Linked DNA regions of Homo sapiens. The protein of the gene in region 2 interacts with the protein of the main gene of each other region in a pairwise test. Each region holds a gene or a part of one and is shown on either strand. Other genes may lie near its edges.

Region 1 (7,648 bases), on a different chromosome or scaffold from region 2:
TGTGAGCCACTGCGCCTGGCCCAAAGAAACACTTAATAAGGTTTTGCATTTGATAAACAACTATTTTATATGTACGTGTAAATGTAGGCATTAGCCTTCTTGGAATCACAATATGTTGTTAAGCTGTAATAATTTAAACGACATAGTACTCGTACAAAAATAGATGAATCGACCCTAAGTAAGAACTCATTTAATGCCTACTAAAGGCACTAATTGTGATGAAAGGCGGGGTGGAGTGGCTCATCCCTGTAATCCCAGCACTTTGGGAGGCTGAGGTGGGTGGGTCACCTGAGGTCAGGAGTTTGAGGTCAGCCTGACCAAAATAGTGAAACCCTGTCTCTACTAAAAATACAAAATTAGCCAGGCGTGGTGGCACATACCTGTAATCCCAGCTACTTGGGAGGCTGAGGCAGGAGAATCGCTTGAACCTGGGAAGCAGAGGTTGCAGTGAGCGGAGATCGTTACATTGCACTCTAGTCCGGGCAACCAGAGCGAAACTCCATCTCAAAAAAAAAAAAAAATTATGATGGAAAACAATCCATAAACAATGTTGGGAAAAAAAAATTTGCAAGATGAAGAAAGATCAATTTAGATGTTCACCTCAGATTTACATGAAAATTAATGCCAGAGGTATTAAAAATGAAATTTAAAATATCCAGAATTGGCCGGGCTTGGTGGCTCATGCCTGTAATGCCAGCACTTTGGGAGGCTGAGGCAGGTGGATCATGAGGTCAGGAGTTCAAGACCAGCCTGGCCAACATAGTGAAACCCCGTCTCTACTAAAAATACAAAAATTAGCTGGGCATGGTGGTGCGTGCCTGTAGTCCTAGCTACTCAGGAGGCTGAGGCAGGAGAATCGTTTGAACTCGGGAGGTGGAGGTAGCAGTAAGCCAAGATCATGCCACTGCACTCCAGCTTGGGCAACAGAGTGAGACTTTGTCTTAAAAAAAAAATCCAGAATTTACAAAGAAAGGTACTAAGTGGATAATAAACATTTATGAATATGTAATGGAAGCCTCAGGTCCCCTTTCTTCCAGCTACGTTTTCATTGCCATTCCCAGTAGTTCTGGTACTGCGGGAAAAATCTACTGTAGAAAATTACCCAATTCAACTGAAGAGTGCCAAGGAGACCTATTTTTCTCCTGTGTGTTTCTGCATTTCAGCCAGTTCCTGGGCTCTCATCTATTCCTTATCATCCATCTGTTTGGGGATGCCATTGTTTTTGTCTGGTTTCCTTTGTCCTGTTGTTCTTTCCCAAACAGGACACCACATCTCTTCCTTTTTTCCTCCAAAGCATTGGTAAACACCAAGCTGTTGCATGCATTCTAACTTTTATTGAGTATTTGATGGTGGAAACATGGCTTAGAGTAATTACAACAAAGGGGAGAAAACTGTAAAATTTTGCATTGGCCATTTTCATTCCTAAAATTTTTTTGGATTGGAGGAAGCGTTCATGTGTGTTTTTTAGTACCACCTGGAGTCAATTTCTTTCATTCAACTAATGCATATTGAAGGCCCACTGTGTGCCAGGCATTGTGCATAGGCCTGGACATCTGGTGGACAACCACAGACATAGATTCTGTCTCTATAAAGAAGGAGACAGGTATTAAGCAAATACCTATATAAATACTCAAATAAAAAAATTCAAAAGTTTCAGGAGAAGGAGCTTACAAAATCTTTCCAATAATAGTATCTTAGTATTCAGAGACAAAGGTCCATCAGAGTAGTATGACATCTTCCAGGTTTGTCCTCTATCCTCGTCTCCTTAGATTCCTGTCTGAGTCCAAGAGAGAGACAGACTGCAAGAGACACTGAAAGAACAGTGTCACTGAGGTCACTGAGACACCTGGAGACATGTCCTGGTCTGGTGCCCATCATGGGAGCAGTGAGGCGTTTCCCTTCTCCAGCACCCTATGAGGTGGATGACTTCCATGCCTTGAATAGCAAGAGATGTGCCGGAGGCCTGGGAGTGAGAGGAAGCAGTGCCTTAAACACCAGCAACTTGTCCCGACACCAGATCCAGCATCAGAGGCAGCAGGGATGCCAAATCATACGGTTGGTGTTCAGCTGTGGTGTGTGCCTACTGTGGTTTCAGTAGGCAGTGCTGAAAGGAGTCAGGGTGGGCTGGGAGTATGTGTGGAATGGAGAAATGTTTGTTAGCACACACAAGATGCCCCTTGGGATTATGGACTTAAAAGGGGACCAGAAGTCTCCTTACAATGGGAGGGCATGAAAGCCAGAGAAATTCCTGTCTCATTAATGCTAACTCACCATGACCCCTGGGCTGATGATACTCTAGGGAAGTATCAGTTATGTTAAAAAGAGTTAACAGGCTGGCTCGGTGGTTCACGCCCGTAATCCTAGCACTTGGGCAAGCTGAGGCAGGAGGATCAAGGTCAGGAGTTCTGGAGTAGCCTGGGTAACATGGGGAGACCCCGTTTCTACAGAAAAGAAAAGAGTTTTTTTTGTTTTTTGTTTTTTTTGAGATGGAGTTTCACTCTTGTTGCCCAGGCTGGAGTGCAATGGTGTGATCTCGGCTCACTGCAACCTCCGCCTCCTGGATTCAGGTGATTCTCCTGCCTCAGCCTCCTGAGTAGCTGGGATTACAGGCATGCACCACCACGACCGGCTAATTTTGTATTTTTAGTAGAGACCGGGTTTCTCCATGTTGGTCAGGCTGGTCTCGATCTTTTGACCTCAGATGATCCACCCACCTCGGCCTCCCAAAGTGCTGGGATTACAGGCGTGAGCCACCGCGCCCAGCCCAAAAAAAGAGTTTTTAATAATATGATGTTGATAATTGTACTGTGGTTATACATGACATATTCCTATTATTAGAAAACACACAGTTGGCCAGGCATGGTGGCTTACACCTATAATCCCAGCACTTGGGAGGCCGAGGCAGGTGGATCACGAGGTCACGAGTTCAAGACCAGCCTGGCCAAGATGGCAAAACCCCGTATCTACTAAAAATACAAAAATTAGCTGGGCGTGGTGGTGGGTGCCTGTAATCCCAGTTACTCGGGAGGCTGAGACAGGAGAATCACTTGAACCTGGGAGGCGGGGGTTGCAGTAAGCTGAGACCATGCCATTGCACTCCAACCTGGGTGACAGAGTGAGGCTCTGTGTCAAAAAACAAAACAAAATAAAAAAAACCCATACGCATTTATTTAAAGGTAAAAGCCCATGATGTATGTACCTTACCTTCAAATGGTTCAGAAAAAAATTTTGTGTGTGTGGGTGTATTTTATATACATATATCTATATATATATAGAGAGAGAGAGAGAGAACACGAAAGATAAAGCAAATGGGGTGAAATATTAACAATAGTTGAATCTAGGTAAAGGGCATATATGTGGCTTTATATTATTGTTATTTTTGCAACATTTAATAAATTTCAAATTGTTTCTAAACAGAGTTAATAAAACAATAAAATTACAGCAGGATACATGCAATAATTAGTGTTTGGACAGTGTATAGTGGGACAAAGGAAGGATCCATCAGCTTTGTCTGGTGATGGGGGTGTCAGGGAAGGCCTCATAGAGAAATTGGAGGAAAGATTGGAAGGATGATGTCTTCTTTTCCCATTTATTTATTATTATTATTATTATTATTATTTTGAGGTGAAGTCTTGCTCTGTTGCCCAGGCTGGAGTGCAGTGGAGCAGTCTTGGCTCACTGCAACCTCCACCTCCTGGGTTCAAGCAGTTCTCCTGTCTCAGCCTCCAGAGTAGCTGGGATTACGGGTGCACGCCACTGCACCCAGCTAAATTTTTGTATTTTTAGTAGAGACAGGGTTGCACCATGTTGGCTGGTCTTGAACTCCTGACCTCAGGTAATCCGCCCACCTCGGCCTCCCAAAGCGCTATGATTATAGGTGTGAGCCACTGTGCCTGGCCAATTATTATTCTTAATTAATTAATTTATTTTTCATGAGGTGTCACCTCAGTCTAAAAGGATGATTTCTTGACAGAGTTGTGTCTAGGGGGCCAGGGCATCTGGGGGAGGTGGGAGAGGGAGAACGCAGGGGAGGATTGTGACCTATCCACGAATCTGATTAGATACTGCTACATTGTATGGCCTGCCTTGGCAAAGCAGGATGCCCCTCCTCAGATGGCGACAGTCACCTGTGTGGCCAGGAACACAGCTCCCTGCTCCTCCAGCCAGTCGCACGTCCTTTCTCATTTCCACGGTCCCAGGCTCAGGTACCCTCAGAGGGAAGGGCTTCAGAGGGAGGGGCTAGCAGCCTAGGCTGCTCAGGGTTGGGCTGGGCAGGGCTCAGGTGGTTTGGCTCTCCACAGCTCTCCACATAAAGGGACCAGCACTTCACCCTTCATCAGGATCCTCTGCAGGGGAGCTCCGAGTGTCCACAGGAAGGGAACTATCAGCTCCTGGCATCTGTAAGGATGCTGTCCATGCTGGTGAGAAAAATGTTTTTGATCCATGTGTGTGGGAGCAATGATGCCAGCTCAGGTCTCAGTTTTAGAGATTTAGAGTTTCAGGGAAATGAGCCCATGGCCCCTTGGGTATTTGTAGTGTTGGACAGCCGTGGGGCATATTCCAGGAGGTTTTAGAATGCTCATGAGCCCATCACTTTCCATTTGAGGATTCCTGACTCAGAAAGGTTAGGAAGTAAGAACGAGAGGATGACAAAGGAAGGGCCAGCCAGTGACCTTGTGCATCTTGTTTTTCCTTAGAGGACAATGACCAGACTCTGCTTCCTGTTATTCTTCTCTGTGGCCACCAGTGGGTGCAGTGCAGGTAAATGGCTTCTGAGAGTAGGAGCTGCAGTTTCCTGGGCTCCCCTCTGCTGTGCAGGGCCTGGAGGGAGTAGAGCTGGGCAGGGCTCTGAAGTCAAGGGTCAAAGGGGAAGTTCTGGAGAGGCAGGGAACCCAGGCTAGGCAGCCAACTTGAGGTGTGGACTGGGTGCTGATTTCTGGCCTCTCCTGGGGTCTGGTCTGAAGCAGTCAGGGTGTTAGCTCAGGTATTTCCTAGGGCTTGATTCTCTGCTTCTGTGGCTGTGAGGGGTTCATGGGGTGAGAGAGTAAGAACTGTGTCCCTGCTCAGCTGCTCTTGTGGCCTTGGCCTTGGGATCTCCAGAGGCAGCTGGGTGATCAGTGCTGTGTCCAGGGTACACCCTCCTCTAGTCGCAGAGGAGGATATTGTGAGAATAGAATCCTCACAATTCTATTCTTCCAGTAGGCACAATAGTGATATTTTTTCATTGATACTGGGTTTATTGTTTATTTCAATCCATCAGTTAAAAAAAGCACATTTACATATGTCATCTCATTTGATCTCCATGCGTATAAAGAAGTTATTAATGACATCTTAAAGATGAAGAAAAAGGATCAGAGATGTTAAGTGTCTGCTCAAGGAGGCACTGTCATCAGGGTTTGTCTGGATTTTACCTTGAGTCCTGTAATTTTTTTTTTTTTAGACGGAGTCTTGCTCTGTTGCCCAGGTTGGAGTGCGGTGGCGTGATGTCGGCTCACTGCAACCTCCGTCTCCTGGGTTAAAGAGCTTCTCCTGCCTCAGCCTCCCCAGTAGCTGGGATTACAGGTGTGCACCACCACACCCCAGCTAATTTTTGTATTTTTAGTAGAGATGGGGTTTCACCATATTGACCAGGCTGTTCTTGAACTCCTGATCTTGTGATCCACCCTCCTCGGCCTCCGAAAGTGCTGGGATTACCGGCATGAGCCACTGTGCCTGGCCTGAGTCCTGTAATTTTACACTTTTTCCCGCTCTGCCAGGCTTTTGGAATGATTTCTAGGCTTTTAGACTTATATACATGGCCCTTCATCCACTGGCCTCTGTTAATTTTTCAGCTTTGGTTTCCAGACTTCTTTGTATTACAACATATGTTCCAGCCACAATAAGCGACTGACCTGTAGTTTTTGGCAGGCTGGGCTGGGCTGGGCTCTGTTATTGCTTCAGGCCATCTCATGTGCTTTCTTCTCTTCCTGGGGTGTACTCTCCCCTTTCCTTCCTGTCCTGTAGCCAGCTCCCATTCTCCCATCAAAATCAGCCTGCTCTGAGTTACAGCTGGTCCCTTCCCCAGCAGTTCCCAGGCCTCACCCCCGTTAGTGGGTTTGCCCTCCCATCTCAGTTGGGTCCCTTTCCATGTGCTCCTTCCTTGTAGAATGTAGTCTCTTGAAGAAATGTGTCAAATTGTCTTTGTCCGGTGTCTAGGTAGTTCACACAGTAGGTATTTAATTAAAATTAGTCGAGTGGAAGATTCCAGGTGTTTAACCTATACCAGCTGTTGGATCAGACCGTCTTAGCATAGGGAATCCCTGACCTCCTGGGACTTCAGAGCAGAGTGATGAGTTGATACAGGGGCAGAGATTGGCCAGGAAAGATGGCCTCAGTGGTCAGACTTCTAATGAGACTCATTCTCACATTTTCTAGCAGCAGCCTCTTCTCTTGAGATGCTCTCGAGGGAATTCGAAACCTGTGCCTTCTCCTTTTCTTCCCTGCCTAGAAGCTGCAAAGAAATCAAGGAACGCTGCCATAGTGCAGGTGGTGAGTAATGAACCAACTCAGCATTCTCTCTTTGAAGCCACTTTTTAGCTCAACAGAGCCCAGTCATGGAAATCAGGAGGGACATATCCATATGGAGCCTGTTCTGCCCCCAGCTCCTACTCAAGGAGGTTTCTAGTGGGAATTTTGAGGCTTTTGTGTCCCATTCCAGTCACAAAGTCTTCTGAACACAGAGAGAATGCAGTGTTCCTGGTGATGCTTATGGTGGTGGCAAGAACTGTGATGCGTCTGAGATTTGCCCCTACTTGCCCCAGGTTTATAGATGCTGGCAGAAAACCTGAAACTCCCGAGCCAGAGACAAAGAGCTTTATTAATCACAGAAATAGCAGTAGCCAGAGCATCAGCATTTTCTTGTACTGGGCCAGGTGACATCTGCCCAAGTAGTGGGTTTGTCAAGCTGGCTGACAAATGTGGCTGGCAAGGAAACAACAAACCCTTTTTAGAGCCAGAGAGTTTATTACTCACATAGCTAGCAAGTTCAAGATCGGCAAAAGTGTCAGCTTTTCCCATCCCTTGCCCCACAAGACAGCACAGAAAAGAGGGCGAGTGACAACACAACATGGGCAGTGGCTGAGGAGCCAGTCCATGCTGCCATAGCTGTTTCATAGCCTGTGTACCCTACGGGGTGGGGGTGAGTGAGGCAAAAAGCCTCATACCTCTTCAGAACCCAGGAGATGATGACACAGTTATGACAGCTGTCTCATGACAGCCTCCACGAAAGATGGGAAGGGGGGTGAGAAGTGACCTTGTTGCAGCTCCTCACAAGGTTCCCATCTTTCCATGTTTGGGGAAGACCACAGGCTTTCTGCCAAGACTTAGGTCAGCTGTCCCTATGTGGCCTATGCGCAAATGTGCAAGGTCACCAGGATGCCACCGTGGAGCCAGTCTCCTGCAAGCTTGTGAACAGGAGGGGAACTCTGAGCTTAGGGAAGCTGAATCTTATGAAGTGGGCACAACCTTTGCTCTGAGCTGCACAGAGGCCCTATCCTGCTGTAGAATCAGATGTGGCGTGTGCTGATTTCTGGCCTCTCCTGGCCACAGGGTGGCACTGTCGAGAGGGAGATACCATCTCTGTCTCTTCTAAGACTATTTGCTCTACAAA
Region 2 (7,356 bases):
GCATGTGACATCAACCAAGAGGTCACAGGTTTTGCAGAGGGGGACACAGGTCATTTGCCCACAGCACCAAGGAACTAGGTGATGAGGCCTGGACTCCATCCCGAGCCTGTGGATTCCAGAGTGAGCTGCTCAGCCTGGACCTGTTGCCTCTCAGCCCCAGCCCTCTGCAGGCCAGAAAAACCACGGAGCACACCCAGAGGTGCTCAGTTGCTTCCACCTGAGAGGCAGGGCTGCACAGGAGCAAGAGTGGAGGCCCTGGGTCAGGCAGATCTAGATTCAAACTCCCGAGAAGGGTGGAGGGAAGTGCTCCAAGCAGAGCAGAGACTGAAGGCGGGAGAGCCTGGTGCACCGCGGACCTGCAGGGGGAAGGCATGAGAGCTCGGTGCACTGGGGACCTGCATGGGGAAGGCGGGAGAGCTCGGTGCACTGGGGACCTGCATGGGGAAGGCGTGAGAGCTCGGTGCACTGGGGACCTGCATGGGGAAGGCGGGAGAGCTCGGTGCACCTCGGACCTGCAGAGGGAAGGTGGGAGAGCTTGGTGCACCGCAGACCTGCAGGGGGAAGGCGGGAGAGCTTGGTGCACTGCAGACCTGCGGGGGGAAGGTGGGAGAGCTTGGTGCACTGCAGACCTGCGGGGGGTTCCATATTGGCAGAACAAGATTGGGTGGGCATGCCAAGAGGTGACAGCAGGGAGAAGCGGGGGCAGATTCAGGGCCTGCTGCTGCCCATGGGCAGAGGAGAGATGGTCAGGGGTACCCGACAGGTCTTTGGCTGTGGAGGTGGAATGAGGGGACTCGAGGCAGGGAAGCTGACAGGCTTGCCAAGAAACCAGATGAGTAGGGAACTGGTATTGACCCAGAGCCTGGGGCAAGCCTGGCCCTGTGAGTGGCAGTAGGGGCCTCAGGTGAGTGGGAGGTTCTGCCGCCCCCCTGGTTTCCACCTTACCTGGGCAGGAAGAGTGGCCCTGTGCAGACATAGACGTTTTGGTAGCTGCGGGTCAAGCTGCGGCTATATTTCTCCAGGTTGTTCCAGGCATTCTGGTTGAGGTGGGGCACCTGGTAGGAGAGATAGGGCTTAGCAGGACTGTGGCTGGGACCCTTCCTCCTCTATCAGAGGGCCGCCCCAGGTCCTGAGGGGATGGACAGGCTCAGAGATATCCAGTGAGACAAGCGGGGGGAAACTGAGGCTCAAGGAATGAAAGTCACTCCCTGAAACCCAGGGCTGATAGAGTGCTAGCCACCACCCTCTGTCCCTCCCACAGCCCAGGTGTCAAAGTCTTTTCTCAGCTCCCAAGAGTCGAATGAAGGAAGAGCCTGTCTCCACCTTTCAGAGAGGACTGAGGCCTGTCCCCAGCCCCACCCAGGGTCTCCTGGGAAGACCAGCCCTTCCAACTACCAACCCGTTCCTTTTCCCAGTCTGAGCCACAGGAAGAGCCTAGCGGGGAATGCCATGAATCGACCTCCATCCTGAGCTCTCCAGGCCTGGGACAATGGAAAGTGGATAGGGGGCTGTCTTCCCAGAAGGAAGCTGGGTCAGAGGTTGGTGCCCCATGGGCTCCACCCAGAGCCCCATGGCAGTCTCCATCCATTGGTGCCAGGACCTGCTGGGAACAGGCTGAGAGGGTGGTTGGCCCAGTGCACAGTGCCTGGCACTAACAACCTGATCGTGGGCCAGGTGTCTGCCTCGAAACTGCCTGAAGGCAGGCAGGGTAGGACAATGTCTGGAGGCTCACGGTTTTATAGACTAGGGGTCCCCAACCCCTGGGCTACAGACCGGTACCAGAACCGGGCCACACAGCAGGAGGTGAGCAGCAGGCGAGCAAGGGAAGCTTCATCTGTATTTACAGCCACCCCCCCATTGATCCCACAGCAGCCTGAGCTCCGCCTCCTGTCAGATCAGTGGCGGCTGGAGATTGTCATAGGAGCTGGAACCCTATGGTGAACTGCGCATGTGAGGAGGTTGCGCGCTTCTTTTGAAAACCTAATGCCTGATCTGTCGTTGTTGCCCATCACCTCCAGATAGGACTGTCTAGTTGCAGGAAAACAAGCTCAGGGCTCCCACGGATCCTACATTACTGTGAGTTGTATATTTCACTATATGTTACAATGTAATAATAATAGAAATAAAATGTACATAAATGTAACGCACTTGAATTATCCTGAAACCCGCCCTCACCCACCAAGCCGTGGAAAAACTGTCTTCCACGAAACCGCACCCTGGTGCCCAATAGGTTGGGCGCTGCGGTTCTACAACAGACAGCCTTCTTCTGCTGTGTGACACTGTGCCCGTCACTTTGCCTCTGTGAGCCTCAGCGCCTCATCACTACCGCAGGAGGAAGGTGAATAACGGTATTATCCCCATTTTTTTGACGAGGAAAGCGACGCTCAGGGAGGTGCCCAGGGTTCGCAGTTGAAGCTCAAGCCCTGGTCGGCCTGCAGACCCTGTGCCTGGAGCCCAGTGCTCCTCCCTCCCGCCACGGGATGTCACTGCGATGCCTGACCGGGGGCGCGTTGGGCAGCTGCCCCGTTCTGCAGAAGAACAAACCGAGGCCCCGCGAGGCCAGGCGCCGGCCCCGCATTCCGCGACCGGCCCGGGGCGCGGGCGCTACCTGGGGCGCGACGTTGCTCAGGTAGAACGTGTCGTCCATGGCCTTCTGGCTCCAGCGGTGGTTGGCGGCGGCGGCCAGGTGACCGCGGTCGAAGCCACTGCCGCGGTAGTCGGCGTTGGTGGCACGGTGGTACGCGTGCACCGAGTCGTCCTCGCGGAAGTCGCACTCGCGCCGGTCGCCGTCGCCGCGGAGACGCTCGGGTCGCAGCTGCTCCACCACCCAGAGCGCGCCGCGGGTGCGCGGGTCGTAGCACAGCACGTACGACTCGCGGCTCTTGAGCTGCGCCAGCCCCGGCAGCCCGTACTTGGCCAGCTCGCCCGGGCCGCGGGGTCCCCCGGGCACAGGGGGCAACTCGGCTGCCGCCGCCACGGGCAGCACGGGCAGCCGGCCCAGCAGTCCCGGCGCCGCCCGCGCGTCCTCCCGCCGCCGCCGCCAGCCCTCGACGACCGCACCCAGCCCCGCGCCCGACGCCAGGGTCAGGCCGGCCCGCAGCGCCCGCATGGCCGGGGAGCGACCTAGCGGCGGGCGACCCGCGAGGCTCTTAAAGGAGCCGCGTCGCGGGATCCAACGAGGGCACAGGGCTGCTGGGGCCGCGGACGATAGCGTGACCTCCCTTCCACTCACAAACACTGCCAAGGGCTTGGGCCTCGGAACCCAGAAGGGAGCAGCAGAGCCCAACCGGGTGTCCCCGGCGTCCTTTCTTTGCGCATTTAAGACGCCGGTATGAGGGGCGTGGCATCGTCGCCTCAGCTCGCGATTGGCCACCATCAGGCCTGGCTCCGCACCCGCCTCGCAGGCCCCCTGCTGGTCGTGGGGTGGGAGACACTCTCTCCTCTGCGCCTGCGCAGGGAGCTCCTGCTTAATACGCTCCGCGGAAGGGTCAAGCACTGTCGAAAGCTTTTACTGTCACTGCTTAGTCTCACCCTCTACACCGCTCGGAGAGTGAGCTCCTAGTTCGCAGAGCAGGCACAGGGCCCCAGGTATATCTGGCCCTAGGCTATCCTCCATGACACCATAAAATAAGCCCCGCAATTCTACCAGATTGGCAAAGGTTTCTTTTTTTTTTTTTTTTTTTTTGAGACGGAGTTTCGCTCTGGTCGCCCAGACTCGAGTGCAATGGCGTGATCTCGGCTCACTGCAACCTCCGCCTCACAGGTTCAAGCGATTCTCCTGCTTCAGCCTCCCAAGTAGCTGGGATTACAGGCATGCGCCACCACGCCCGGCTAATTTTGTATCTTTAGTAGAGACAGGGTTTCTCCATGTTGGTCAGGCTGGTCTCAAACTCCCGACCTCAGGCGATCCGCCGGCCTCGGCCTCCCAAAGTGTTGGCATTACAGGCGTGAGCCACCGCGCCCGGCCCAGATTGGCAAAGATTTTAATTAACAGCAGTTTGAGGACAAGGATGCAGACGGCTGATGCTGGCTGCTGGCTGGAACAGAAACCTGGGGCGAATATTCCAAAAAACAGCTTGACAGTACAGTACAAGCGAAGCCTTAAAAAGGTTCATACCGTTCAACCCACGCAGAGGGCTGAGCTGGGGAAATCTCGGGAATGCAAGGATCTCGAACGCAAATATTCACCAGAGTATTACACTGCCGGCAGGAATAAGCAAAATATTCAGAAATATGGACTGGTTAAGGACTTTTATTTTTTGAGACGGAGTCTCACTCTATTGCCCAGGCTGGAGTGCAATGGCGTGATCTCCGCGCAGTGGAACCTCTGCCTCCCAGGTTCAAGTGATTCTCCTGCCTCAGCCTCTGAAGTAGCTGGGATTACAGGCGCGCACCACCAGGCCCAGCTAATTTTTTTTTTTTTTTGAGACGGAGTCTCGCTCTGTCGCCCAGGCTCACTGCAACCTCCGCCTCCTTGGTTCAAGCGATTCTCGTGCCTCGGCCTCCTGAGTAGCTGGGACTACAGGCGCGCGCCACCACGCCCAGCTAATTTTTGTACTTTTAGTAAAGAATGGGTTTCACCATGTTGGCCAGGCTGGTCTCGAACTAACTCCTGACCTTGTGATCCACCCACCTTGGCCTCCCAAAGTGCTGGGGTTATAGACATGGGCCACCCAACCCAGCCACTCTTAGCATTTTTTTTTCCTTTAAGGAAAATAAGGTCTTGTGCTGTCACCCACACGGAGTGCAGTGGCAAGATCACAGTTCACTGCAGCCTTGACCTCCTGGGCTCAAGCCATCCTCCTGCCTCACCCTCCCGAGTAGCTAGGACCACAGACACATATCATGATGCCTGGCTAACTTTTAAATTTTTTATAGAGATGGGGCCTCGCTATGTTGTCCAGGCTGGTCTTGAACTCCTGGCCTCCAGTGATCCTCCTGCCTTGGCCTCCCAAAGTTACAGGCATGAGCCACTAAGCCCTCCTGAGGTCAGTAGTTTGAGACCAGCCTGGCCAACATGGCGAAACCCTGTCTCTACTAAAAATACAAAAATTAGCTGGGCATAGTGGACCGTGCCTGTAATCCCACCTACTGGGGGACTGAGGCAAGAGGATTGCTTGAACCTGGAGGGCGGAGGTTGCAGTGAGCCGAGATCATGCCACTGCACTCCAGCCTGGGCAACAGAGTGAGACTCTGCTTCAAAAAAAAATATGGGACAGGGTCTTGCTTTGTTGCCCAGGCTGTTCTTGACCTCCTGGGATCAAGTGATCTGTGGGCCTCAGCCTCCTGAGTAAATGGGACTACAGGCTATGGTGTATCACCATACCCAGCTACTTTCAGCAATTTTGAAATATACATTAACTATAGTGACCATGCTGTAGTTTGTGTTTTTTTTTTTTGGAGACAGAGTTTTGCTCTTGTTGCCCAGGCTGGGGTGCAATGGCGTGATCTCGGCTCACCACAACCTCTGCCTCCCAGGTTCAAGTGATTCTCCTGCCTCAGCCTCCCGAGTAGCTGGGATTACAGGCATGTGTCACCATCCCCAGCTAATTTTTTGTATTTTTAGTAGAGACAGGGTTTCTCCATGCTGGTCAGGCTGGTCTCGAACTCCCGACCTCAGATGATCCACCCACCTCAGTCTCCCAAAGTGCTGGGATTACAGGTGTGAGCCATCGCACCTGGCCATACCATGCTATAGTTCTAAAAAAAAAACATTCCTGGGCCGGGTATGGTGGCTTAGGCCTGTAATCATAGCCCTTTTGGAGGCCAAGGTGGGAGGATTGCTTGAACCAAGGAGTTCAAGACCAGCCTGGGCAACATAGTAAGACCCCCGTCTCAAATTAAAAAAAAAAAAATCCTCCTGTCTAGCTGAAACTGTACCCTTTGACCAACATTTCCCCATTCCCCACCGCCCCAACTCCCACCAATCCCCAGACTCTGGTACCATCATTCTACTCTCCACCTCTATGAGTTGTTTTACATTCCGAATATAAGTGAAACCATGTCGTGTTTGTCTTTCTGTGCCTGGCTTATTTCACCTACCGTAACGTCCTCTAGGTTCTTCCATGTTGTCACAAATGACAGAATCTCCTTTTTTTTTTGAGGGTGAATCTCGCACTGTTGCCTGGGCTGGAGTGCAATGGCACAATCTTGGCTCACTGCAACCTCCCCCTCCCAGGTTGACGCAATTCTCTTGCCTCAGCCTCCTGAGTAGCTGGGATTACAGGTGCACACCACCACGCTCGGCTAATTTTGTTGTATTTTTAGTAGAGATGGGGTTTCACTATGTTGGCCAGACTGGTCTTGAACTCCTGACCTCGTGATCCACCTGCCTCAGCCTCCCAAAGTGCTGGGATTACAGGCGTTAGCCACCACGCCCGGCCTTGTCTTTTTTTTATAAGCCATTCTGACAGGTGTGAGGTGGTATCTCATTTTGGTTTTAATTTGCATTTCCCAGATGATCCATGCATTGTTCAGCATTTTTTCAGATAGTTGCCAGAAATTTTTATGTCTTTTTTTATTTTTTTTTGAGACAGAGTCTGGCTCTGTCACCAGGCTGGAGTGCAGTGGCTCGATCTCGGCTCACTGCAACCTCCGCCTCCTGGGTTCAAGCACACACCACTATGCCCATCTAATTTTTGTATTTTTAGTAGAGACGGGGTTTCACCATGTTGGCCAGGATGGTCTTGATCTCTTCACCTGGCGATTCGCCTGCCTCAGCCTCCCAAAGTGCTGTATGTCTTCTTTTGAGAAATATCTATTCAGGTCCTTTGCGTGTTGTTTAAATCACATTGTTTTCTTGCTATTGAGATTTTTGTTTGTTTCTGTTTTTGTTTTTTAGACAGAGTCCTGCTCTGTCACCCAGGCTGGAGTGCAGTGGCACGATCTCGGCTCACTGCAACCTCCGCCTCTGGGTTCAAGTGATTCTTGTGCCTCAGCCTCCTGGGTAGCTGGGATTACAGGCACCCACCACCACTCCTGGCTAATATTTTTGTAGTTTTAGTAGAGACTGGGTTTCACCATATTGGCCAGGCTGGTCTTGAACTCCGGACCTCAGGTGATCCACCCGCCTCCGCCTCCCAAAGTGCTTGAATTACAGGCATGAGCCACCATGCCCAGCTGCTACTGAGATGTTTTAAGTACTTATATATCTTGGATATTAACCCCTTATCAGATGTATGGTTTGCAAATATAATCATGCATCACATAAAGATATGTAATCCAAGCTACCCTGGGATGCTGAGGCATGAGAATTCCTTGTACCCCGGAGGCTGAGGTTGCAGTGAGCTGAGATCGTGCCACTGCACTCCAGCCTGGGCGACAGAGCGAGACTCTATCTCAAAAAAAAAAACAAAC

Evidence for each region.
Region 1: the proteins of ENDOG (region 2) and ITLN2 interact in binary tests that used the Homo sapiens proteins (3 or more experiments, as listed by UniProt).

What each region holds. Positions count from the first base shown.
Region 1 is NC_000001.11:160,951,500-160,959,147, reverse strand, and holds the start of ITLN2 (intelectin-2 precursor), read left to right. Parts: upstream 1-4,338; 5' UTR 4,339-4,406; coding exon 4,407-4,421; intron 4,422-4,697; coding exon 4,698-4,761; intron 4,762-6,414; coding exon 6,415-6,528; intron 6,529-7,648.
Region 2 is NC_000009.12:128,814,438-128,821,793, reverse strand, and holds the start of ENDOG (endonuclease G, mitochondrial precursor), read right to left. Parts: upstream 3,295-7,356; 5' UTR 3,110-3,294; coding exon 2,609-3,109; intron 2,144-2,608; exon of another isoform or gene 1,056-2,143; coding exon 946-1,055; exon of another isoform or gene 107-945; coding exon of another isoform or gene 1-106. UniProt on the Homo sapiens protein: Endonuclease that preferentially catalyzes the cleavage of double-stranded 5-hydroxymethylcytosine (5hmC)-modified DNA.